Linked DNA regions of Homo sapiens. The protein of the gene in region 1 purifies or fractionates together with the protein of each later gene. This does not show direct contact. Each region holds a gene or a part of one and is shown on either strand. Other genes may lie near its edges.

Region 1 (3,547 bases):
TGGTTAACGAGTAAAAACATATGGATACATAAAATGAGTAAGTTTTAATATTTGATAGCAGAGGAAGGTGACTACGGTATACAACAATGTACTGTGTTCTTCAAAATAGCTAGAATTAAAATGTTCCCAATAAAGAACAATGATAAATGCTGCAGGGGATGAATGCCCTAAATTTCCTGATATCCTGACTTGATCATTACACATTCTATTCATGTAAAAAATCACATGTATGCAGTAAATGTGTACAAGTATTATGAATCAATACAAATAACATTAGAGAGTCTTCTTATTTCCTATGTTAGTTACACCCAAGCCACTCTCTTGCTGGAACAAATATGGTAGTGGTTGTAGTGGGGAGTGATGATGATGAGGAGGAGGAGGAGGAGGATGGTGATGGTGAAAACAATGATAATATGTTGCTGCGAATACAACTCTATCAAATGACAGCTAATTACGTGTCAGGCATTGTGCCAACCAAATATCAGATAGTAATCAAATTTTATGCCTTAGACTAGTTTGTAATGTAAATGTTATTTTGCTCACTTTGCAGTAAAGAGAAGTTGTCAATTCAGAGAAGTTGAATAATATCCTCCTCAAATCAATCAAATGCTAATTAGGGAAAATAAAAGGGGTTTAAAATGATACAGAAATAATCTTTGGTATGACTCCAATTGTGAGATCCTGCTGTGAATCAAAGAAAGATTGAAATAAATCCAAAAGATTACATACTATTGCTAATAAAGCAGATTTGAAAATAAACAAAAGATCCATTCACAAATATATATGCATAGATACTTTATTCAGGGAGTGAAAGATAAGTGACAATTGCAAAGGTGGTAGAAGCTCGTGACCAGGTGACAGACAGACACAGAACACATCAACAGAATTCTCTGATGGTTCCCAGGGAGAGAGCTGCTGCTCTTTCTTCCGAAGCTCTGGGAGCTGGCACAGCCCAGGACTTCCTTTGCTCAGTCTCCACCTGGACAGTGGCAGTATGGCAGCCTCAGAAAAGAAACTTTTTGCTGTCAGGGATCATCATGGGCAGATTACTGGCTAAGGAGAAAGAAGCTCCCTGTGTATCCATGGTAGGCTTTGATGAGAAGATGAAGGTGGAGCTGTGGAACGAGGTGAGCCAAATATCCTTATCCTTTCTTGGTCCTGATGAATTCTGAAGCTGTTACTTGCTCTTCGGTGGATACTTTGACTGGCAGGGTGGGGAAGGTGTCACAGGAGGATATTTCTGCTGGCACTGCTGAGGTGGGCAGGGCTGTGGACACTTTGGTGGTGGGCAGGGCTCAGGGCACTTCGGGGGTGGACATGGCTCTGGGCACTTTGGCGTGGGGCACACAGGAGGTGGCTGGCAGGGCTGCTTGCACTGCTGCTGTTGATAAGACATCCTGCTGGAGTCTCAGGATCTGAAAGAAATGATACAACAGTGTTCGTGGGAAGGGAATCCTCCAGAGAGAGAAGCCAAAGCTTGTGTAATACCATGGCATATTATTTCTCCAATCTCCAAGAAATTATTTAAATTCTTAATTACCTTTTCAAGACTTTCTGGTTTCTCCCTTCCACTTTAACAAATTGCTTCATTGTCCCTAGGAAATCCTGTGTTTTCTCATACAATTTTTCCAAATAAATTATCTCTGTTATAAAGAATCAAGCATCTTATTTCCCTGAAAATAACCAATTCAAGAAAGGCAGTCACAAGTTCAGACACCCTGGGCAATCTAATATGCTATTCCTATCATCATTATCTGTTATAAAGTCCAAGTGGGCTGACTTGGGCATAGAGCAAAGGGCTGCTCAGGGAGAATTGTAGTCTTTCACACCTGCTAAGACACAAACCTTTGTAAAGGACACTAGAAAGACAGAGAATAAAGAAAAATACTTTGTTCTTTTTTCTTCTTCATATCAAAGGTTACCCCTTAACTTCTCTGTCCATATGGATACCTACCTGTATAACAAAAGAAAGCTAAAATAGCATATAATTGTGCTCTAATCTTAAATTTTCATCCACTAAGTAGCATCAAGTCAATTTTCATAGGATTGGATCCACCAAACTTGCCATATTCAGATTAAACTCAACATTTCAGGGCACAAAGAACAGAGGAACTCAAGGAAGCCGACTCACCAGGTTCTCCAAGGCAGATCAGTGCTCAGGTACCAGGGGTTTAAGAGTCGTGCAGCAGAGGATCTCTTTATAGAGCCTGCTACCCCACCCAGCAGGAAGTGAAACTACCCAAAACAATGCTGATCCAGTAATTTCTTAAGCCAGATGCAAATTTATCCATGACTGGCATGAGCAGGATACTCAAAATAGGAAATATCCTGTTCTGAAATCTCTCCTCTGGGTTAAGCTCTCCTGACTCACAGAAGCCATGCCTTGGATCTCAGTTTCAGTGACTTATGGCAAAGAGGGACTTGGGGGAATCTCTAACTGATGGTCAAGGGATCTCTTTCTTAATTGGGAACAAAGATATTTTCCTGTCTTACACCTTCCCTAAATCATAAAACTTCTGCCCTCATTCACTTTACCTGAATGCCTTATTGTTGTACATGAACTCAACTGTACCTCTACTTTCCTCATGCAATTTGCCAATGTGCTAGGAGGAAGGGGAGACCTAACAAAGGCCTGAGTTCTAGCTCAAGCCTTTTCTTTGCTCTGTTGTATGACCACAGGCAAGTCACTTCTCCTCCACGGAACTGTAAACAGGGAGAATAATACTTACCCCTGAGTTTGCAGGCATTGACCGCATTGTGCCACCTGATGACCCTGTTCGAGCTTGAAATTTTTTCTTCTACCTCTTTCTTTCTCTCATAAAACCCCAGATTTTACCTGTATTATCTTCCTCTTTAAAACTGTCTTCTCTAATCCATTTGTAGAGGCATTTGTCTCCCAGGATAGATTCCAAAGTGAGATCGAGTCTCCCTAGCACGTTTTCTACTTGCTGCCCTTAGGGATGTGTACTATAACTTTTTATTTATAAAAATGTACTCTTGGACACCACCTTAAGGAAGTAGAGAGAATGGAACCAAAGTTGCAAGCATTCACTCAAAATCTATGTATTGAAACTTGCCTATGTTCAATACATTTTACATACATTTTTAGTATAATTTGAATATTTTAAATATTACATAATCTCCCAAAACATTCTGTAGTGTCCTGTGAATATCCTATAGAGAACAAGCTGCATAGACTCATGTTATCATATGTAAATAATTAGAAGTAGGTTTGCAGAGTGCAGAAGTTCAGAGCACTTAAAGTCTGAAATCTAGAGGAAAATAAAAGCTAAGTGTAATCCAATATGTATTCTTGCTCTCTATTTCCAAACAGGTTTTAGGTGTTTGAAAGACAGTGTTTTAAAATTTGTTTGTATGTTCTTCCTTTGTTTTTTCCGTAGACCCTCTAGTCCCACAGTCTGCTGGATTATCAACTCACACCCCAATGTACACCTCTCATCTGTCCATTTTGGTACATATTGTTCACTTAACACATATGTTGTCAATGCATTTAGTGATTGTTCTTTCACATCTTTTTTAAGCTCTT
Region 2 (3,826 bases), on another chromosome or scaffold:
TGTTCACGCCACTACATTCCAGCCTAGGCCACAGAGGAAGACCCTGTCCCCCCAAAAAAAAGAAAAAGGAAAAAAAAGTCTGGCCTTTTAAAAAGCCAGACTTCTGTTTGTTTCCAATCTATTCAATCTCTGTCCCCCAAATCTTTTGGCATAGAATTTGTCTAGCTTAGACTAAACCTTCCATCTTACTGCTGGAAAAAATTGAGGCATAGAAAGGTTAATGTGGTCCTTAGCAAGTCAGTACAGATACAGTACTAGAAGTGGTAAACAAAGAGTCTCTGAGGCAGAAAGGAATTCTTAATAATTATGCATATTTGCGTATGATTGTCCAAAGATGCAGTTGTTGAGAATTATTTCTCAGAAGTATCCTTTGATCTTAGTGAACAAACTGGTTTGAATTATTGCCTGGTACAATGTGAATAACAAATACAACCATTTTGCATAATTCTAAGACTCAGTTTGAAGGAATTTCTTCTTGGGCTGGGAGATTAAATTATATGCCCTTTAAACTCTGGGATTCTTTGACTCTTGTTCTAGCCATGTGTCGTTAGAACAAGATTATCAGCTATAGCACAGAACAAATAACTTTCCTATAAAGATGTTCTTATGTTCTTAACTAAAAATCAACATGGTTTATTTATTTTTTCTTTGTTTTCTTTTTCTTTTTTCTTTTTTTTTCTTTTTGAGACAGAGTCTCACTCTGTCACCCAGGCTGGAGTGCAGTGGTACAAATACAGCTTACTGCAATCTCGACCTCCCAGGCTCTAGCAATTCTCTCACCTCAGCTTCCTGAGTAGCTGGGACCACAGGCCTGCGCCACCATGCCTGGCTTATTTGTTTTTTATTTTTTGTAGGGACAGGGTCTCACTATGTTGCCAGGGCTGGTCTTGAACTCCTGGGCTCAAGCAGCCCTCCTGCCTTGGCCTCCCAAAGTGCTGGGATTATAGGCGTGAGCCACCATGCCCAGCAACATGCTTTATATTTCTATCCATAAAAAATAATAAATAATGGCCAGGAGAGGTGGCTCATGGCCTGTAATCCCAGCACTTTGGGAGGCCAAGGTGGGCTGATCGCTGGAGGCCAGGAGTTCAAGACCAGCCTGGCTAACATGGCGAAACCCCATCTCTACTAAAAATATAAAAATTAGCTAGGCATGGTGGCACATGCCTGTAATACCAGCTACTCTGGAGGCTGAGGCACAAGAATTGCTTGAACCCAGGAGACAGAGGTTGTAGTTGAGCCGAGATTGCACCACTGCACTCCAGCCTGGGTGACAGAGGGAAATATTAGATTAACAGTAAAAAATTCCTTGGTTAATTTTGGTGGGTTTTTGTTTTGTTTTGTTTTGTTTTGCTTCATGGATGCCTTTTATGATTTCTTAACTTCTCTGTTGTACCAAATTTTTCATCTAAAAAACACAGATTATCTATACCATGCACCTATCCTGTAGGGTCTTGTGAAAGATGATAGTAGAACATTTTGAATGAAGAAGTCTTGAAGATGTGCTGAAATAGATAAAATCTTTTTTTTTGAGACGGAGTCTTGCTCTGTCACCCAGGCTGGAGTGCAGTGTGCAATATCGGCTCACTGCAACCTCCGCCTCCCAGGTTCAAGCGATTCTCCTGCCTCAGCATTTCGAGTAGGTGGGACTACAAAGCGCCTGCCACCACGCCCGACTAATTTTTTATATTTTTTGTAGAGACAGGGTTTCACCGTGTTAGCCAGGATGGTCTCGATCTCCTGACCTCGTGATCCGCCCACCTTGGCCTCCCAAAGTGCTGGGATTACAGATGTGAGCCACCGTGCCCGGCGATAAAATCTTTTTTAAAAATTTTTTCCTTTTAATTTTTGTGGGTCCATGGTGTTATATATTTATAGGGTACATGAGATGTTTTGATACAGGCATGCAATGTGAAATGATGAAATAGATAAAATCATTAACAGGAAGCCCAACTATAATTTTATATAGCCTTTTTATATATTTTTGTATAACACCTTAAAATCGTGTGTTAACTTGGGTGTGTCATCCTATTTAATTCCACAAGTGTTATCTAGTGTCTGTTTGATAAGTGCCAGGCATTATGGGACAAGTATAGCCCTTACCACGAGAAACTTTAGTAAAGGAGAAAAATACAAACATCAGTTACCTAGTTTGATATGATGAATGTTCTGCTCTAAGTGTATGTAAAGGGCTTTAGGAACACAGATGGGGTAGAGTTCACACTCCCAGGAGATTTGGGGTGACTGCTAAGCTAGATTGATTGGAGGAGCAGAAATAAGCCCTGCTACTTATTAAGTTGCTGAATTTACTGTAGCACTTCTACCGAAACTTGGAAAGAGGAAGCAAATGGAATAAGTGGCATTAGAATGAAAAATAATAACATAAGCTCTCCATAACCAATAACTTTTTTCAAGGAGAAGTTATTCTCATATCCAGTTAATATCACAGTCAGTGCCCCCAGAGTAATCTGTCTCCTTTGTGGTTGTTGAAGGGCTTGCTCTCAATTTTGCGCAAGTTGAAAAGTGCACCAGACCAGGAGGTGAGAATACTTCTCCTGGGCTTGGATAATGCTGGCAAGACCACTCTTCTGAAGCAGCTTGCATCTGAAGACATCAGCCACATCACACCTACACAGGTGAGCACTGCCTTGGCTCCAGATGCCGTGTGACACAGGAAGACGATAATAGCAATGTGAAAGACAAAATGGGAAATACAGTTTTGTCCACTTCCAAGTTTTGTCTCTGAGAAAAGTCTATACAATCTAAAGATAACCAGATTTCAAAAATATGTAAGAGATTCCATTCTCATGAGGTATTTAGAGTAGTCAGATTCATAGAGACAGAATGCAGAATGGTGGTTACTGGAGCTGGGGAGGGGGAATGGGGAGTTATTGTTTAACGGGTACAGTGAGTCAGTTTTGCAAGATGGAAAGAGTTCTGTGGGTAACGGCCCACAGTGTGAATGTATTTAATGCCATGGAACTGTACACTTTAAAATGGCTGAAATGGTACGTTTTATGTTATAACGTTAAAATGTGTACGCAGACACACTTCACAGTACCCACTTCATCAGGCCACCCCACTGCAGCATCTGCATCCCACTGGGCTTCAGCCTCCACACAGCACCTTTCAGCACATGCACCCCTCTTCCGTCTCTGCCCCACCTTCCCCACCCGCACATGTCCTCAGCAGCTGCATATTGTACGTGTTATGTTACAATTTAAAATATATGTATACATATATACACATGTGTGTGTTTGTGTGTATATAGACAAATCCAGCAGATCTGAGTACCTATATTCTTTTTATTTTTATTTTATTTCTTTAAATTATTTATTTTTTGAGACACAGTCTTGCTTTGTCACACAGGCTGAAGTGTGGTAGTGCAATCTTGGCTCACTGCAACCTCCGCCTCCCAGGTTCAAGCGATTCTTGGACCTCAGCCTCCCTAGTAGCTGGGATTACAGGCGCACACCGCCATGGCCCGCTAATTTTTGTATTTTTTTGTAGAGCCAGGGTTTTGCCATGTTGGCCAGGCTGGTCTCAAACTCCAGACCTCAATGATCCACCCACCCCAGCCTCCCAAAGTGCTGGGATTACAGGTGTGAGCCACCACACCCAGCCTATTCTTTTTTAAAAAATAGCTTTATCTTCTCTGATTATGAAAGTAGTGCATGTAGAAAACACAGAGAAAGTATAAAGGAGAAAACTCTGAGAAAAACCATGGTTAATATTTTACCGTGTACTTTTCAGACTTAATAAATACAAATATGTATCAATTTTTAAAAGAAAAAAAAATTACCTGCCTTTTTTTTTTTTTTTTTTT

What was found.
Region 2: the proteins of SPRR2A (region 1) and ARL3 purify together in Homo sapiens (affinity purification with mass spectrometry; one large-scale study listed by BioGRID and IntAct). This does not show direct contact.

What each region holds. Positions count from the first base shown.
Region 1 is NC_000001.11:153,055,340-153,058,886, forward strand, and holds SPRR2A (small proline-rich protein 2A), read right to left. Parts: upstream 2,174-3,547; 5' UTR 2,132-2,173; intron 1,416-2,131; 5' UTR 1,397-1,415; coding exon 1,178-1,396; 3' UTR 781-1,177; downstream 1-780. UniProt on the Homo sapiens protein: Gut bactericidal protein that selectively kills Gram-positive bacteria by binding to negatively charged lipids on bacterial membranes, leading to bacterial membrane permeabilization and disruption.
Region 2 is NC_000010.11:102,704,156-102,707,981, reverse strand, and holds part of ARL3 (ADP-ribosylation factor-like protein 3), read left to right. Parts: intron 1-2,492; coding exon 2,493-2,636; intron 2,637-3,826. UniProt on the Homo sapiens protein: Small GTP-binding protein which cycles between an inactive GDP-bound and an active GTP-bound form, and the rate of cycling is regulated by guanine nucleotide exchange factors (GEF) and GTPase-activating proteins (GAP).